4 linked regions of the Homo sapiens genome follow. The protein of the gene in region 1 purifies or fractionates together with the protein of each later gene. This does not show direct contact. Each region holds a gene or a part of one and is shown in the gene's direction. Other genes may lie near its edges.

Evidence for each region.
Region 2: the proteins of GABBR1 (region 1) and TPD52L1 purify together in Homo sapiens (affinity purification with mass spectrometry; one large-scale study listed by BioGRID and IntAct). This does not show direct contact.
Region 3: the proteins of GABBR1 (region 1) and CASR purify together in Homo sapiens (affinity purification with western blotting; one study listed by BioGRID). This does not show direct contact.
Region 4: the proteins of GABBR1 (region 1) and KCTD16 purify together in Homo sapiens (affinity purification with western blotting, with the first as the bait; one study listed by BioGRID). This does not show direct contact.

Annotation. Positions count from the first base shown.
Region 1 is NC_000006.12:29,615,261-29,620,113, reverse strand, and holds part of GABBR1 (gamma-aminobutyric acid type B receptor subunit 1 isoform a precursor), read left to right. Parts: intron 1-4,853.
Region 2 is NC_000006.12:125,247,144-125,251,996, forward strand, and holds part of TPD52L1 (tumor protein D53), read left to right. Parts: intron 1-1,138; coding exon 1,139-1,240; intron 1,241-4,853.
Region 3 is NC_000003.12:122,259,539-122,264,391, forward strand, and holds part of CASR (extracellular calcium-sensing receptor isoform 2 precursor), read left to right. Parts: intron 1-1,989; coding exon 1,990-2,874; intron 2,875-4,853. UniProt on the Homo sapiens protein: G-protein-coupled receptor that senses changes in the extracellular concentration of calcium ions and plays a key role in maintaining calcium homeostasis.
Region 4 is NC_000005.10:144,204,744-144,209,596, forward strand, and holds part of KCTD16 (BTB/POZ domain-containing protein KCTD16), read left to right. Parts: intron 1-647; exon of another isoform or gene 648-1,298; intron 1,299-1,585; exon of another isoform or gene 1,586-1,645; 5' UTR 1,646-1,971; coding exon 1,972-2,803; intron 2,804-4,853. UniProt on the Homo sapiens protein: Auxiliary subunit of GABA-B receptors that determine the pharmacology and kinetics of the receptor response. Increases agonist potency and markedly alter the G-protein signaling of the receptors by accelerating onset and promoting desensitization.

The DNA of each region.
Region 1 (4,853 bases):
ATCCTAGTTAAATCTGGCTCCAAACTGCTCTGCTCATCACTTCCCATGGAAAACCATGAAGCCTGACTAAAAAGTTTGTACTTTTATCTGCTAACACTGTTTAGCTACTGGCAATTGCTGAGCAAAGGAGAAATAAGATTTAGGAAGTTGACTCTGGTGGTGTGTTGTGATGAAAGATCTGCTGCCACATGGACTCTGATGATACACACTGTTTTGGGACATTCTAAATGGACTCTATGTTTTAAGGTATGTTAGTTGAAAAATACAATGAAAAAATTTTGGAAGATCACTTTCCTGTAGAGTACCCAAGAGGTGAGTCATCCATAAAACCTGGGAAAGTATTGGAACTGGCTACCAAAGCCAGAAAGACTTGTTGGTGCCCTGAGCCCAGGACTTGCCAATCGTTGCTTCTGTCTTATAGCAGGGAGCTAGAGGAGGCTGACAGAAAACAGGGATTTGGCTGGATCTAGTGGCTCACACCTGTAGTCCCCAGCACCTTGGGAGGCCAAGGCAGAGGATCACTGGAGCCCAGGAGTTCAAGACCAGCCTGGGCAATATAGTGAGACCCCCAGCTCTAAACAAAAAGAGAGAGAGAGAGAACAGAGAGATGGTTAGGGACATAGAGGGACACCTGAGCATTGGGGTGGGAAGACTTGGAAGGTCCCTTTCTGACTTTGTGTCTAGAGAAAGATGGTTCCTGCTTTTGAGGCCATAGGGCTTCCAGTGGGACCAGCCTAAAATGCCAGTGGGGAAGCCAATGTTTTCTGAAGAGGATAGAGCAGTCTTAACAATAGGTTAGGGGCAAAAGAGATTATAGATTAATCAAACAGCACAAATAGAAGTGGATCAAAGCAAGGGTTGGACCTAGGGGGCCGGAGCCATGGAGACTTAGAAAAGAAGCAGAGTTGCTTTTATTCCCTAAGGATGGCCTTATGTTTAGATCAATAGTTCTCAAACTTTAACATCCGTCAGAACCACCTGGAAAGGTAGTTAGTTCACAGGTTATCAGGCCCTTCCCCTGGAAATTCTGATTCAGTAGATCTGGGCTAGGGCCTGAGAACTGACATTTCTAGCAAGTCCCTGGGGATGCAGATGTACTGGTCTGGGGATCACACCTCGAGAACTATTAGTTAGGGTAGTGGTTTTCAACTACTACCCTAGACTCAGACGCTATACTATCTGGAGGCATTTTTGGTTGTTACAGTTGGGGGTAGGGGATGGGGAGGGATACATGCTCCTGATATCTAATGTGTAGAAGCCAAAGATGATTCTAAATATCCTACAAAGCACAGCCCCTGGCAACAAAGAATTATCTTGCTCAAAATGTTAATAGTGCAGAGAATGAGAAACCCTAGTTTAGAGAAAACATCTTTAGGGGCAATATGTGGAAATGGAGAGTGGGTTAGAGTGGTTTTAGAGAAATGTAGCTGTGGGCTAGAGGGGAATGTGGGAGGTGGCATCCTGGAGATAAGATTGTGAGGAAATCTTGATTGGGGTAGAGATCCCATCAGACCTAGGACCAGTACAAACTAAAAAGCTACCTCAAGATATACATTTTAGCCCACTGTCAAGCATCCATTCTTGAGAGCCAGACAAGGCTGTTAAAAAAATTAGGTATAAATTTGCACTTGGTTGATTAACTAATTGCTGTGGGTTGAGGGGTCTTTATTGTTCAGATTTCCTTAAGCTGCAGAGTAGAGTGTCTCTTTGACAATCTATAACTGTATCTTTACTGACTCAAGGGGGAAGCATTCTACTCTTCTTTACTCTTGGGGTGGCAGGAGCAGTGGTGCCCCCAGTGGTTAGGCGTGTTAGTGGTAGTGACCTGGCGTGAGCACAGGGTCTGACCACCTGAGCAGGGGACCGCATCGTGCTGAGCAGATTAATCCCTTTCTTTCTGGGTGATTTTTTTGATGCCATATTTACCTTGAACTGAAGATTGGATAGACCAATCTTTCAATTTGAAGCCAAAAGACTACTCAAAGTATTAGCCTAGCTGCTATTTGTGCAGGTGCTCTTAGAGAGAGGCAGTCTCATGTACAGAGACTGTGTAGGGTGGCTGGTAAGAGTATGGATTAGCTCTGCTACTCATTAATAGTATAACTTTTTTATAGGCAAGTTATATAACTTTTCTGTGCCTCAGTTTTCTTATCTCTAAAATGGGGATAATAACACCTCATTGGATTGTTTGAGGATTAAATAAGGTAATATAGTTTCCTCAGGAAAATGCTCGATACGTCCTAAGGACTGTATACATGTTAGCCACCATCATCGTTATCATTATCATCATCATCCTGTGTAAGGAGGGATCGATATCAATGAAACATTTCAACAAAAGAGTTAAGAGGACTCAGTGATTTGAAAGGGTCTGATGTAATTCCAAGGCTTCAGTCTCATTTACTGGGAGCTGTTTGGGAGTAAGAAAAAATTGAGCTTCATCTTGGATATTTTGATTTTGAGATTATTCATCATACATTAAAAATGCCTCAGAGTCAGTTAGAAATATGGACTTGAGGCTGGGCGCGGTGGCTCACGCCTATAATCCCAGCACTTTGGGAGGCTGAGGCAGGTGGATCACAAGGCCAGGAGTTCAAGACCAGCCTGGCTAACATGGTGAAACCCCGTCTCTGCTAAAAATACACAAATCAGCTGGGTGTGGTGTCGTGTGCCTGTAATCCCAGCTACTTGGGAGGCTGAGACACAAGAATCGCTTGAACCCAGGAGGCAGAGGTTGCAGTGAGCCAAGATCGCACTACTGCACTCCAGCCTGGCAACAGAGCAAGACTCCATCTCAAAAAAAAAAAAAAAAAAAGAAAGAAAGAAAGAAAAGAAATATGGACTTGAAATATTGGGCTGAAATTATAGATCTGAGTATCAATAACAAAGATGAGGTTGAGAGTCAAGGAAATTCACGTAGAGAAAATGTAACTTACTTCATACCCAGCATTTTTATACATGTTCTAATTTCATTTCATACTATTTTAGATAGTATTATTCTCATTTTAAAGCTGAATAACCAACTAGTGAGGTTTAATAACTTGTTTGAGATTTCATAGCAGGTAAAATGATTAGAATATGAATTCATCCATTTATCTATCCAACAGACTTTTTTTTTTTTTTTTTTTTTTTTAGTAGAGACGGGGTTTCACCGTGTTAGCCAGGATGGTCTCGATCTCCTGACCTCGTGATCCGCCCGCCTCGGCCTCCCAAAATGCTGGGATTACAGGCGTGAGCCACCGCGCCCAGCCTTTTTTTTTTTTTTTTTTTGAGGTAGAGTATCCCTCTGCTGCCCAGGCAGGAGTGCAGTGGTACAATCGCTGCAGCCTTGACCTCCTGGGCTCAAGTCATCCACCCACCTCAGCCCCTCCCAAGTAAGCTGGGATCACAGACATATGCCACCAAGTCTGGCTAACTTTTTTTTTTTTTCTCGAGATAGAGTCTTGCTCTGTTGCCTAGGCTGGAGCACAATGGTGTGATCTCGGCTCACTGCAACCTCTGCCTCCTGGGTTCCAGTGATTCTCCTGCCTCAGCCTTCTGAATAGCTGGGATTACAGGTGCGTGCCACCATGCCCAGATAAGTTTTTGTATTTTTAGTGGACATGGGGTTTCACCATGTTGGTCAGGTTGGTCTCGAACACCTAACCTCATGATTCACCCTCCTCAGCCTCCTGAAGTGCTGGGATTACAGGCGTGAGCCACTGCTCCAAGCCAAGTCCGGCTAATTTTTTTTTTTTCTGAGATGGAGTCTTGCTCTGTTGCCCAGGCTGGAGTGCAATGGCATGATCTTGGCTCACTGCAACCTCCGCCTCCTGGGTTCAAGCGATTCTCCGATTCTCCTGCCTCAGCCTCCTGAGTAGCTGGGATTACGGGAGCCCACCATCACACCCAGCTAATTTTTGTATTTTTTTTTTTGAGACAGAGTTTCATTCTTATTGCCCAGGCTTGAGTGCAATGGCGCGATCTTGGCTCACAGCAACCTCCGCCTCCCAGGTTCAAGCCATTCTCCTGCCTCAGCCTCCGGAGTAGCTGGGATTACAGGCATGCGCCACCACACCCGGCTAATTTTGTATTTTTAGTAGAGACAGGGTTTCTCCATGTTGCTCAGGCTGGTCTCGAACTCCGGACCTCAGGTGATCCACCCGCCTCAGCCTCCCAAAGTGCTGGGATTACAGGCGTGAGCCACCGTGCCCAGCTAATTTTTGTATTTTTCATAGAGACAGGGTTTCACCATGTTGGCCAGGCTGGTCTTGAACTCCTGACCTCATGATCTGCCCGCCTTGACCTCCCAAAGTCCTGAGATTACAGATGTGAGCCTCCGTGCCCAGGCCAAGTCTGGCTAATTTTTAAAAAAATTTTGTAGAGTTGGGTCCTCTCTGTTTTGCCCAGTCTTGTCTCAAACTCCTGGGCTCAAGGAATCCTCCTGCGTTGGCCTCTGAAAATGAAAATGTTGGGATTACAGGCGTGAGCCCCCTGTGCCTGGCTGCCTTTTTTTTTTTTTTTTTTTAAAGGCAGAGTCTCACTCCATCGCCCAGGCTGAAGTGCAGTGGCGTGATCTCTGCTCACTGCAACCTCTGCCTCTTGAGTTCAAGCGATTCTTCTACCTCAGCTTCCCAAGTAGCTGGGATTACGGGAGCCCACCAACACACCCAGCTAATTTTTGTATTTTTAGTAGAGACGGGTTTCACCAGGTTGGCCAGGCTGTCTGGAATTCCTGACCTCAGGTGATCCACCCTCCTTGGCCTCCCAAAGAGCTGGGATTACAAGTGTGAGCCACTGTGCCCAGCCTGACTTGTTTTTTATAATGCCTTTTTTTTTTTTTTTTGAGACGGAGTCTTGCTCTGTCGCCCAGGCTG
Region 2 (4,853 bases), about 96 Mb from region 1:
CTACATAGCTGATTTCATAGGGTATAATGTTTTCTTACAGATACCATATGCATGCAAGTATAACAGGGTTTTGGGAGAACTTACCTGGGAGCAGCATAAATCAGAAGAAGACAGCATATGCATTTTAAGATTTGAGGGTTTTTTTTAATGTGTATAAAAATTTTGTTGATTTACTATTATTCCTCAAGTTATGTACCTTTTATTTCCCACTTTCATAACCAACTCAGAAATTTCTCATCCCTATAGGTAGCATCACTGTCCTTCCTGTCATGATGCTCACAGCCTCAGGACAACCTTTGGTCTTGCTCTTATTTATCACTTACCATCTCCTGTTGAATCTGTCCATTCTATCCCTGTAATCCATCATACCTCTTTCTTTTCCTAGTGCCACTACTCCCAGTTCAGAGTCACAAAAGGTTGTCCCTTTTGATATCACCCACTCGTTCATCTACTATTTATTGAGTTTCTTCTTTATCCCTTTGTCAGAGACCAGGGACACAAAGATGAATGGCTTCCTTGCCCTCAAGTAGTCAAGTCTAGTATGACATAGGCTTATCAACAAATATTCACAGTATATATTCCTAAAACTGTTTTGAAAAAAAGTCACTATATTATCTTCAGATAATGTGCTTTTATTATTCCCAGCTATAAATACTAGAAAAGTAAGCTAAATAACTAGCTGTGTTTTGCCTTTTTCTGGCTTATTTTACCCAAATTAACAGTGTAAGCTTAGATGTACCTTCAAAACCTAAACCTGCATTCTCTAATTTCTGTGTCATCCTTGATGCCTAGAGCTGTCATTGACAAGTGTCTGTTTTAGAACTAATACACTTCAAGAACAACATTCTGCTCACTGAGCAGTTCCATTATTTGTCATGAAAGAGCTGCACATTCAGATCTGTATTTGTATTTGTATCTGTATATACTTCCTAAATTCAGATTTAATGGTCTGACTTTCCTTCTGATGAACAGCAGCCAACCCATCATCCCCAGACAATGAATGGAAACAGTGGTTTTGTGGATCTTCTTCCTAAATCTGTTGAGGAAAGGACATTTTCAAAGTAAGGAGTGAGAAGGAAGATGAATTGTTTATGGGAGATCATGATATAAAAACCATGTTGTTCTGTTTTATTTCTAGCTACAAGAAAACACATGAAACCCTGAGTCACGCAGGGCAAAAGGCAACTGCAGCTTTCAGCAACGTTGGAACGGCCATCAGCAAGAAGTTCGGAGACATGAGGTACTGTGGGAAAATACCATGGGAACGGCGCTAAGCCCTTGGCTTTCCGATTGAAGGGAGCACTAGCTATTAGCTGCTCATCTCAACATATGTATTTTTTTATTTTAATGGATAAAAATGTTATATGGCTGATATGATTGATGACTAAGATAAATTTTCACACTGGGACATTTTCTGCCTGAAGGTCAGGCTTAGGTGGCCTGGTCCCAGAGTTGCTGTTTCTACTAGGACCCGACCTGGTAAAAATAGAAGATACAGGGTAGTGAGGCAGATTTGAAAAGAATGCAGCATGTGCAAATTCTTACTAGCTGTAATATAAATGATAAATTAAAACATGCATTTAGTGGAATGCACTCCCATAAACTATTCTAGATTGCATATTTGTATACATCCATCTAGTATATTTTTTCTGTGTTAAATAGGTACATATTTATCCTTTTATTCCATAAAGGTACCACACATATACACTTCTGGTAGTTTTCTTTCTTCATTTTCTAACTATTTTGTGAGTATGTTAAATATTTATTGCACCTTCATTTTTAATGAATTTATCTCCCAGTGCGTAGCTATAGCAATGCTTTTAGATAAGTAACCTTGCACATTTTCATTATTTTCAATATTTCACTGTTACATAAAATAAGGGTGACCATCAAGGTTGATTTTGACTTGAGAACCAAAAGTTCTCACTGGAGGCACCAGGAAAAAAAAAATGTAGTATTGCCCATAGTTTTTCATATTATATACAATATTATATACAATATATTATATACCATATTATATAGAGGTATTACTCTTAGTTTTTGCTTATTTAAATACCAGTCATAGTTTTATTTTGCATTTGGCTGATATGCCTTGGAGGATTTTTCTTTAGAAATCAGTTTCATTTTTCCCTCTATTCTTTAAAAACTTTTCGAGCACATTTTACATTTCTTCTTTAAAAAAAAAAAATCTCTGCGTATTTATTTTACTGGATTCTTAAACTGTTACTTTTTTATTAAAAAGAAAAAGCTTTGGGCTGGGCACAGTGGCTCATGCCTGTAATCCCGTCATTTTGGGAGACTGAGGCAGGTGGATCCCTTGAGGTCAGGAGTTAGAGACCAGCCTGACCAACATGGTGAGACCCTGTCTCCATTAAAAAATATATATATATACACAAAAATTAGCCAGGCATGGTTGTGTGTGCCTGTAGTCCCAGCTGCTGAGGAGGCTGAGGCAGGAGAATCACTTGAACCCAGGAGGCAGAGGTTGCAGTGAGCCCAGATCACGCCACTGCACTCCAGCCTAGGCAATAGAGTGAGACTCTGTCTCAAAAAAAAAAAAAAAAAAAGAAGGAAAAGCTTTGACACTGAGAGGCAAATATCTTCCTAACTTTACACTTATAGATACATCTTTATAAATTATATTATTAAATTTTATTTACTTCAAAAATTGCTGGACTGTCCACAATATTCATTCACTATTTTAACAACTAGGCATTCACAAGGACATGTGCATGAATCTGAGTACATTGTTTTATCTTCATTTTTACTAATGCCACAATAATAAAAAGTAATTGAAATTCTTCAGAAGCAGGTGTGATAAACAGGTAAACCTTCTGGATTATTAATTACCCCTAATTTTATTACAAATAAAATTTGTAATAATTTTAACGGCGTTATAACATTTATCTAAACTAATTAAATAATCCTTTAAAATAGGAAACCCTCTATAACCTGTTATACCCAAGAAAACATATTTTCCCATGTTTATAAAATTGATTCTCTTCATACTGTGTTGAAATCTTTCACTTGAACCCTGGGAACTCCAGCATGACACTGCTAACTAGAATAGTGCTTCTGCATCTTTAGGAGATCTTACAAACACCTCTGAAGCTTGTTTAGAATACATATTCTTAGGTTGCACCTCTCAGAGGTTGTGCTCAGTAAGTCTGAGGTGGAGTCTAGGAATCTGCATTTATAACAAGCTTCCAGATAATTTGGCTTCAGAGGGTCAGTTTATGAGGAAGACAGACATAGCTTAGCTCACCTGTATCTGGGGTTTTCACTAATAAAATGGAGATAAGAATAACAATGTCACTGGACTGTTATAAAAGTAGCAGAAGAAAGTCTGACATGTATTATGCACTCAAAAAATTGCAGTTTTTTATCTTTAAGTGACCAGCTCAGTTACAAGATGGCCCCACATGGTAGAAATTAGGGAGAGTACATTAACAGGAGCCCACTGTATTTCATAAAGGCCCTGCTCATTGTTTTTCCCAATAGTGAAGAATGAAGACTGTGTTTCACATATGCAATATGTTGGCATTCATATTCAAACACTAATTGGGTACAATGTCAAGGTTGTATTGACTGCCTTTCCTCCCGTTTCAATGTGGCTTTGTCTAGTATAGTGGATGGCCTATTTTCCAGGACTTCCAAACTTTCCATTTGTTATTATCCCATGTAGAGGGTACAACATTTTCATTATAAACTGTGGCTAAAAATATTGGAAAATACAATCTGTGTTGCTAGATAATCAAATACAATCCTGAAATATTTTGAAGAGTTTGAAAATTTCAGAGCTTTATTTATATAATATTTTATGTGTATATTTCTCTCAAACTATATCTAACATTTGTATATAAATGAGAATAACTCTTTGTGAAAGCAACAAGTTTTACAAAGATTTTTACTTTTAAATTATGCCCAAACAAGTAATATAAATAAAAGTCATTTTGAAAGTGTTTAAACTTAATAAAAGACCTTAAATGGGAAAAAATAGTAAGCTTTGATTGTTTGTTCAAAAACTAATGTGCCAATTTGTAAATATGGGGAATATGTTAAAATTTGGTCACAGACCTTTTATTTTAAACTTCTTTTTGGTTAAAAGTGTCATATTAGTCTACATTTTTATTAGTTACACTATAACATTTTTGTGCATTCTGGTAACAAATTTCTGAATGTATTCAAAAACATTACCAGCAAAATTCAGATAGCTTGGAAGAACAACAGTACCTCTCAGTTTTTCTTTAAAATAACTCCAAATTAATATTTACAGATTTTGTAAAACCTAGAATTTGGGCCTTTTAATAGCTGAAAAAAAAGCTTTATGTTAAGATTTAATTTGTATGTTTTGTAAAAATAAGTTATATTTTTCTGAGCTAAGTAAGATTCTCATTTTAACCTGATTGTCATGGAATTGCCCACTCTCTTTCTCCATCCATAAAATAACATTGTTAATACCCACTTAACCAAAATATTTCCTGTGAAGTTAAAATGAGGTCACACTTAGGAAAGTACTCAGAAGAAATCCAAGCGGTTGGAATCATTTTTCTAATAACATTGGCATCTTCTGGGAACTTCTCAGTTAATTTGTTCAAACTGATCCACTGGGGACAAAATGTTTGGAGAAGGCATGTCATTTTATTACAGTCCAATCATTGTTATATACTTATAGGAATAACAGAAGCAAAACTTGAGTTGGTAAAATGATTTGTCAGAGACATTAAAAAGTCAGTGTAATCAAGAGTGGTAAATGAAGCTACCCTGTCTGTGCTCTGGGGCCCTTGAAAGGGGACCACCAAGGGCAGTGCAGTGTTTCTCTGCCTCCTGTTTGCTAACTCTGCTCCTGCTCT
Region 3 (4,853 bases), on another chromosome or scaffold:
AGTCAAGTTGGCCTAATTTTTTTACAGACCAACGCCTTTTATGTTTCTAATGTAGAAACTATCCATCAATAAGAAGAAACACATTGGAAATTTTTTTTTTTTTTTTTTTGAGATGGAGTCTGGCTCTGTCACCCAGGCTGGAGTGCAGTGGCAGGATCTCAGCTCACTGCAAGCTCTGCCTCCCGGGTTCACGCCATTCTCCTGCCTCAGCCTCCCGAGTAGCTGGGACTACAGGCGCCCGCCACCACGCCCGGCTAATTTTTTGTATTTTTAGTCGAGACGGGGTTTCACCGTGTTAGCCAGGATGGTCTGGAAATTTTTACTTAAAAATATTGGACATGGAAAATTAATTGTTTTAAATGGTGAAAGATATTAAAAAGGCATTCTCCCAAATACCTTTGACTTGTTTTCTTAAGAAGTTTAAAATCTCTCTGGAAAAACTAGAGAACACAAGATATTAAGCTACTTCATTTCCTAGAAGAAATTCCATTTGTGTAAAAATGTTTCGTTCTTCAGAAAAAATGGTCCCATAACTTGGAACTTCCTAAGTGGTGAGCCATGATGACACAGAGTGCTGCAAATGAGCTGAAGCCGGCCTCATCAAAGATGTGGATCTCCTCAAGTGTTGGGGTGACCAGGTGGGGCCTGAGTGGTCAGAGCACTCCCACCAGGGTTGATCAGCTTCCTCTGTTTGCTCCATGTGTTGCCATAATGTGAAAAGAAGTGGGAAAGCTCTGCACTAACTAATGCTTTACATGGTATTTGGCTACTTCTTCAAGCAACGATCTCTTAACATCAAGGGCAAGACTTTCTTCCCTTGGTAGTCCACACCCTTGCTCAGATGCAGAAGTGGCTATGTCTTAGAGAGTGCAAACATGTCAAGACAGCTTCTCCAGGGTTCCTGTTCAGCCTCTTAAGATTTTCAAGACCCATATCAAAAGCCTGTCAAGCAGGCTCAGCCATCACCTATAACTGAATAAAGGAAAGGGCTCTGGAAGGTGCTTCCCAATGGAAGATTCTTCACAATGCGACCTTCAAAAGTGGGTCTGCTAACAATGAGTTAATGGGTGCAGCACACCAACATGGCACATGTATACATATGTAACAAACCTGCACGTTGTGCACAAGTACCCTAGAACTTAAAGTATAATAAAAAAAAAAAAAAAGTGGGTCTGGCCATAAAATCAATCCAACAATAGTGGGATGGAGAGGAAGGGAGGTTTTTCTGATGATATTTAATTACATACGTCATTGTTATTGTGATACAGGGGGATTGAGCCTAGTGGTCTTAGTGGTCTAATTGAGCCTAAAAGAAACAGTTCTCAGAAATGACTGCAATTAAGCTTAGTTTTTTCTAAAGTACTGGGGTGCGGGGAGGAGAGGGAGGAGGAGGAATAACCAGAGGAGGGGAAGAGAGAAATTAGGCAGAATAAGAAAAGGGAATTCCCGGGGACTCCTCTGAAGAGCCTTAAGTTTATAATCCATGGGGAACCCGATTCCTTCCACAGGCAAATTATGAACAAAGTGTTTATTGCAGTAAAGGGAAGTTAAACTCTTCAGATCAGAAGCTGAGCCCAACAAGCCAAAGTTGTGTACATGGATATATTATAACCAATGAGGCAGCACAGAGGAGGTTAGAGAAGACATGAAACGGTGCATAAAGACTCTTCTTGAAAGGCTAAGTACATCCCACTATTGTTGGGTTGATTTTATGGCCAGACCCAGTTTTGAAGTTAGCATTGTGAAGAATCATCCATTGGGAATTGGGATGCTCCCTCAAAGACTGAAAGGTGCTTAAGTGCTCACTCTGGAGTGGAACAGATGCTGCTTTTCCTTACCCTTTCTTTCATCCTGTATACAGTGAACAGCATAGTTGATAAATGAGACCAAGGCATGCTCAGAAAGCCACCTCCACAACAGCCTGGAGGCTCACTCAGCACCTCTTCACTCACTCACTCACTCATTCACCATGTTCTTGGTTCTCTCCAGGTCAGTTATGCCTCCTCCAGCAGACTCCTCAGCAACAAGAATCAATTCAAGTCTTTCCTCCGAACCATCCCCAATGATGAGCACCAGGCCACTGCCATGGCAGACATCATCGAGTATTTCCGCTGGAACTGGGTGGGCACAATTGCAGCTGATGACGACTATGGGCGGCCGGGGATTGAGAAATTCCGAGAGGAAGCTGAGGAAAGGGATATCTGCATCGACTTCAGTGAACTCATCTCCCAGTACTCTGATGAGGAAGAGATCCAGCATGTGGTAGAGGTGATTCAAAATTCCACGGCCAAAGTCATCGTGGTTTTCTCCAGTGGCCCAGATCTTGAGCCCCTCATCAAGGAGATTGTCCGGCGCAATATCACGGGCAAGATCTGGCTGGCCAGCGAGGCCTGGGCCAGCTCCTCCCTGATCGCCATGCCTCAGTACTTCCACGTGGTTGGCGGCACCATTGGATTCGCTCTGAAGGCTGGGCAGATCCCAGGCTTCCGGGAATTCCTGAAGAAGGTCCATCCCAGGAAGTCTGTCCACAATGGTTTTGCCAAGGAGTTTTGGGAAGAAACATTTAACTGCCACCTCCAAGAAGGTGCAAAAGGACCTTTACCTGTGGACACCTTTCTGAGAGGTCACGAAGAAAGTGGCGACAGGTTTAGCAACAGCTCGACAGCCTTCCGACCCCTCTGTACAGGGGATGAGAACATCAGCAGTGTCGAGACCCCTTACATAGATTACACGCATTTACGGATATCCTACAATGTGTACTTAGCAGTCTACTCCATTGCCCACGCCTTGCAAGATATATATACCTGCTTACCTGGGAGAGGGCTCTTCACCAATGGCTCCTGTGCAGACATCAAGAAAGTTGAGGCGTGGCAGGTGCGTCCTTCACTTATATAGCAATTTGCTGTATAATAAAGCAGAGTTGGGCTGCAACTCCAGGCAAGAAAAATAGTGGTCATTTGAAAAGGGCAATATTTAAATGAAGCCACTAAATGGAGCTTTGGATTCAAAGTACCTTTTTTAAATCTTGAGCAACTGATTTGAACAAAATTGATAGTAATTTGATTATCTATTTAAAGCCTTGAGTCAACTGTTCTTTAGTCCAGTGATTCAGAATAACTGAAGTATGGTCCCCAAAAGTTTTCAAATATCCCAGAACAGATTTAGTAATGAGTGGGGTATTTTTCTAATGTCTAAATTATCAATATTGTTCCCTTGTGAGTAAGAAGTATTTTTTGAGTACCTATTACATTCCATATACTAAGTGGCATAAAGCTAGTATTATTGTGTTTAGCCACCACTTTTGCCATTACATTACTGACAGCCTATACCAAGCCACCCAGCAGGTCAGCTAAGCACAGCTTAGGACAAAAGCAAATCAAAGACACAGAAAACAAAAACTCTTTGTAAAAAGATTTGATATTGAGTGTTTCAAAAAGAAGCACTGAAGTGGTTATCATAGAAAAAATCAGAACTTAAGAGGAGTTCCCACACTTGTTTAGCCTTGTTTTGTATTTTTGAATTACACACAGGAGAGACATCATAATCTTTTTCATTTCAAGAGCTTATATCCTAAATAGCTGTTCGGGTCTTGCATATGTGCCTTATTTTTTTCAATCAGACCATGTTTCACACTCCTTTTGTATTTTCCTTAGTTCCAAACTGACCTATCAGAGAGATTGCATGACAGTGGAGAGGGCGGGAATTCCTGAATTTGAATGGAATGTGCCAGCCTCCAGCTCCCCCATTTCCTAGCTGTGTGATCTTAGGCAAACCATGGCTGTAAGTCACAGTGTCTCCATCTGTGACACAGACTTAATGTCTAGCTTACTTTCCACTCAATGTTCTTTTGACTTAGGTTCATGACATTAAATGACATGATATATGTAAAAGCAATTTGTAAACTTTCAAGCTCTAAACAGATGTGTGATTATTATAGTAGGATTTCAGTACAGCTCTAATTAATCCATGAATTAGGTAAAAATGATAACTAGAACACCTTTGTATACAGAACCCAACCACCACAAACCCTTTGGGAAGGATACCAAGAAGCAAAAAGCACACAACTTGTATCAGTCACTGTAGAGATTCTCATGAAAGACAAGGAGTGACTGTCTAAGTTGGTCAAATAGGCCAGAATCTTCAAGTTCTCAGCCCTTCTTATATGGGAACCTCTTACCCAACCATCACTGTTGGCTAAAGTTTCTAACTTCTGTGGGGTACTCAGAGCTTCTTTCTTCACACGGAACCCCTACCTTGCCAAGATAGAGGTGCTGTAATAAAGGTCAGGCACTCTAAAGTCTTCAGGAGTGATGATGCTAAGGTATGGGGTTTTAAGTAGGAGGAGTAAGGGAGCAATCTTCTAGGTGGTTGTTACTATTGTCTTTTCTTTCTTACCTCTCACGTCCAATGCAAGGAGGACCTCAGTTCTTGAAAAAACTGCAAGACAAGAGTAGGGTTGAAGGAAAAACAGGCTTCAAGGGGGAAACTTGGCAGTTCTACTCTTCAATGGCTCCTCTTCCAGATAAGGAAATAAAATACAGATGGTCAAGACCAGACCTTGGACCTGTGAGAAAAAAAAAAAAGCCATGACAGGCTACAGTCACAACTGGGACTTTTAGTTGTGTAATAGAAAGCCCTAACCAAATTGGCATAAACAAAAAAAGAGGAAATGTAGTGAGTGGGTCATGTCACTAAAAATCTCAGAAGTGTTCCAGGTACAGCTAGGTATTTTCATCTCATCTTTCTGTTCTTCATTCCCCAGGGTTAGCAATTTTCAGCTTCTGTAGCAGCTTGAAGCTAGGATCTCCTTACTTCCCAAGATATCCTGTAAAAGTTCCAGAAACCACATTTAT
Region 4 (4,853 bases), on another chromosome or scaffold:
AGAGAGTGTTTATGTATCTACCTATTTACATATATATTCATATTTATTTATTTGCTAGGGGTTGTGGTGGCAGGCGGATGAAATAGAAAAGGAAAAAAAGGGAGAATTTGAGTGAATATGGTTTAAATCAAAGGATTAAAAAAAACACTGTGTAGTTTGAACACTGGGGTCATTTGGTGTGCGTGTCTGTGTTTTAAAACAAGCATTAGAGGGATATTTGCCCTTCAGCAGGAAGGAATTCCGTGAACGAGGAGGGGGGAGGGGGGAAGATCTGTAGATTTTTCAAATAAAAAGTCAGTTGTGTTTATCTCACAACTTACCTCTTGGGTAGGGGGCAGGGATTTGCTGTGGGATGGTGATGGAGGTAAAGACAAGGAAGAAGGAAAAGGCCCTTGGAAACTCCAGACTCCAGGACAGGACAGGGAGGGAAGTGGCTGCGCAGCACTGCGTCCCCGCCCCAAGCCCCGCGCGCCTGGCAATCGCGTGCCCACCGCCGGAGCGCGGCGTCCCCGTGCAGTCCTGGCAACCTGTCACCGAGGAGGACGTGACTCGGAGCTGCCTCCGCTTTCTCCAAGCCATATTCCTTTAAGATGATGTAATAGTCATTTCCCTGGATGGTTTCTTGCCTGCACTGCTGAAACAACAGCATCCGAACTGCACTGGGAACTGTGGAACCACCCAGCTCCGCCGCCAGAGAAGCCGGAGCCCCGGGCCCCCCGCCGGCATCTCTGCGCTGCGTTGGCCTCTGGCTCGCACCGGCTCCCACCTGGCTGGGAACATGGGAGTCCGTTTGCCCTTGCCGGCAGGTGGGGTGGCTACCTGGGACCCTAGCAGGGCACATCTCTCCATCTTTCTGCTTCTGGGCTTTCTGAAAAGCTTCTAAGTCCTGGTACCTCTTGCAACTCTCTTCTAAGGATCCTTTCCAAAGATTTCTTTTTCCATTTTTCTTTTCCCCTGGGGAAGCTTTGGTTGAATATTTTCTCTGCTTTACTTCTTCAACCCAACCTCCTCTCATCAGGGCTTAACTTTTTTTGCGACTTGTTTTAACTTAAGATACGGAATGAACACATATGTACCTACATACATACATAAATACAAATAGGCATTTATATAAATGCATATATATAATAGTTATTTTCCAAGAGCACACCTCTCTGGCACTTTTCATTGATACCTCGGTCGTTTACCTGTTTGGGATTTGACAAGATCCAGACTCAGTTTGGCTGTGGATTTTGATTGCTTTACAAATGGTTATTATTATTTTTTTCACAAGAACTGGGTCTCCAGCACTCACTAAGGTAAGCTCTAAGACTTATTGCTTTTCCTGTCCAGCTGAAAAAAAAATTCCCATTTGGAAGTTGAAAATTGCATGTTTCTTTTTAATGTAGACTTACAAGTAAATTGTTTTTCATACTAATTGCTGGAGACAGAGGCTTATAGATAAACATGTAGGCACAAAATAGCATGAGAGAAGCTATGATTTAATTGAAGAATGGCTGAGATCAGTAGTTCCAGAGCTGCTTATGTAAAATAATCTCTCTCTCCCTCCCTCTGTTTTTCCCTCCCTCCCTCTCTCTCTCTCCAGAGGACTCTTTTTCTGACTCATTCCAGGTTTGAGGAAATAATTTTTTCTCTTTTCCTTCAGACGGACATCTGAGTAACTGGGGAATTGGCCTGCCTTGCATGTGAGCTTGATGGAAGATTGGATATAGACGAGTTGATTATATTTTATGAAGTAGCAGCTCACTACCATCCACCATCCAGGGTTTAAACTACTTTTTCAGCATCACTTCACCTGTGGACTCTTATACATTTTGATTTCTTGGGGGAAAAATACTGGGATAAGAGGAGGTCATTTTTTAATAAGTTAGCATCCTTTTCCCTTTCTTACAAGTTGATCCAAAGGATAAGGCTGTGACTCCATTGGATTGCACCTTTAAATCAAAATAGCAGCAGCAGAAGAAAGGGACAATGGCTCTGAGTGGAAACTGTAGTCGTTATTATCCTCGAGAACAAGGGTCCGCAGTTCCCAACTCCTTCCCTGAGGTGGTAGAGCTGAATGTCGGGGGTCAAGTTTATTTTACTCGCCATTCCACATTGATAAGCATCCCTCATTCCCTCCTGTGGAAAATGTTTTCCCCAAAGAGAGACACGGCTAATGATCTAGCCAAGGACTCCAAGGGAAGGTTTTTCATTGACAGAGATGGATTCTTGTTCCGTTATATTCTGGACTATCTCAGGGACAGGCAGGTGGTCCTGCCTGATCACTTTCCAGAAAAAGGAAGACTGAAAAGGGAAGCTGAATACTTCCAGCTCCCAGACTTGGTCAAACTCCTGACCCCCGATGAAATCAAGCAAAGCCCAGATGAATTCTGCCACAGTGACTTTGAAGATGCCTCCCAAGGAAGCGACACAAGAATCTGCCCCCCTTCCTCCCTGCTCCCTGCCGACCGCAAGTGGGGTTTCATTACTGTGGGTTACAGAGGATCCTGCACCTTGGGCAGAGAGGGACAGGCAGATGCCAAGTTTCGGAGAGTTCCCCGGATTTTGGTTTGTGGAAGGATTTCCTTGGCAAAAGAAGTCTTTGGAGAAACTTTGAATGAAAGCAGAGACCCTGATCGAGCCCCAGAAAGATACACCTCCAGATTTTATCTCAAATTCAAGCACCTGGAAAGGGCTTTTGATATGTTGTCAGAGTGTGGATTCCACATGGTGGCCTGTAACTCATCGGTGACAGCATCTTTCATCAACCAATATACAGATGACAAGATCTGGTCAAGCTACACTGAATATGTCTTCTACCGTAAGTACAAAGGGTTGTTTTAATTTTTTATGTGTGTCAATGCTCTTCACAAATGTATATGGTCTGTGTGTTCTCTCCATACCTAAGGAACATGGTTTGGAATTCTTTTTAACTCTTGAGTTGTAGTTAGAGGATTAGAGGTTATAATTCAGCTCTCATGTCTAACCTAAGGCAACTTTTATCCAATGAGGTCACAGAATATTCAAAGGCCTCCAAAATAATAAAATGCAAATGATATTGGTATATGCAATATGTAAAATGGAACAAGCATGTATGTCTTTTTGTTTTTGCCAGATATTGAATTGAGAAAATAAGGTTGATTATTACATCTTGGCTGTTTGTCCACAGGAGCTTGGTATACTCAGTGGGTGAATTACTGCTGTCTATTCATTTAGCTGGACTTTGAGGTCTATTAAGCTGGTTGCTGAAGACTTGCTTTCATCAGGGGCTTTGAAAACACAAATGGATGTTGCAATGAATAATGTGGTCTTGGCTAGATGGCAGTACAGACTGCTGAAAGGCCCCCTGCTCCCCCCAAGTCTAAATTTTGCTTTTAAGGGTTTTACAAATCTGCTGTTTGATTCTGAAGCCTTTTGTACTGAGACCTGAGTTGCACTGCAGACTTAATTAAGCTGAACTTCATTTAAGATCTATGTAAAAGGAACTAGATCCTTCAGAATTGTCAATCACATTTAAACACCTTCAGACAGCTGAGGTGGTAGAATTACTGACATAAAAGGAAGCCAGAGAGGGAAGAAATGAAACAATGATACTGAAGCCTTTTAAGTAAGGGGTTCTTAGAGGTCAGTTCATTTGCTTAAATGAAGATACCCTGCAGATTCCTCATTTTATGATATGGCATTATTCTAAACTATAAACTGTGAGCCATTGATCCCTGAAAGGAAAAGAGTAAATCAGCCTGCACTCTTTGGTACTTGATTTTAACTGCCGATTTTCAACAGGCCCAGGAGTTGGGTGAAGTAAATTCCACAAGAAATATGTTTCCAGTGTTAACATTTGATTTCCTCTATTCTTATTCTAAAACAAATCCAGAATTCAGGATTAAAATATCTAAATTTCTTTAAACATAAAAGTAGGACTGAATTTCTTGGACTGGTTTTTTTCCTTAGTTATGTTTAATCATTTGGCAATGGTGCCGGGAACCTTGGTAGAGAGGCTAGTGGGAAGCCAAGTCATTCTCTACTAAGCTATCACACATTTGGTTAAGACACATGTATTGCATAGCCAGAACAACCTGTGGAAAAAAACGAAATCAGTAATCAGTTCAGGAGTATATTGATGTGCGATAACAAACATCATTTGGTTCATTAATCCTATCTGTGGCCTTTATCTACAATCTATATCTTTCTTTATGCTAGAGCTTAGTGGACAGGTATTGTCTTCTTCCTTTTGGTAAATTTCCCACTAGTGTAGAGATAAGATTCCGGCTTTTTAGCTTTCTATAAAGGAATATGACATTATCTATAATTCTGAAGCAGAAATATCTTCTCCAAACTTTTTGGAGAAGTACATCTTAAAGATAGTTCCAATGCAGCTTTGTAATATTTACCATGTTCTCCGATTTTGAATATTTGAAAACATAGCATCGTAAGAAGCTTCAACCAAATAAATGGAAACATACCAGTTATACCCTCCAAAAAGACCACATTGGATTTATAGTCACTTGCTTACATAAATGAGACCCACACACTGAAATTTATTTGTCTACCAGTGGCATTTCTGTGTTCATCAAAGGCTCATCTGTCCAACACGATTTCCCTTTAGATTTATCTGGACAGGCTCCATTCTCCTGACTATGTCGTTTCTTCTTTCTTTGTTGAATTGCTGAGAGATTGCTGAGGAACAGTTTGTTCTCCATCTCTCCATGGACAGGCTAGCACAAATGCACAGGAACTTCATACCAGCAGCATATATCTTGCAAATGATATACTTCCCCTTTGTACCCACCATCTAGAGCTAAGTGTTAACTCTTCCTCTGTCTTAGGACCAATAAAACTGACAGCTGGCTTTCTAGGGTGCATAACAGCTT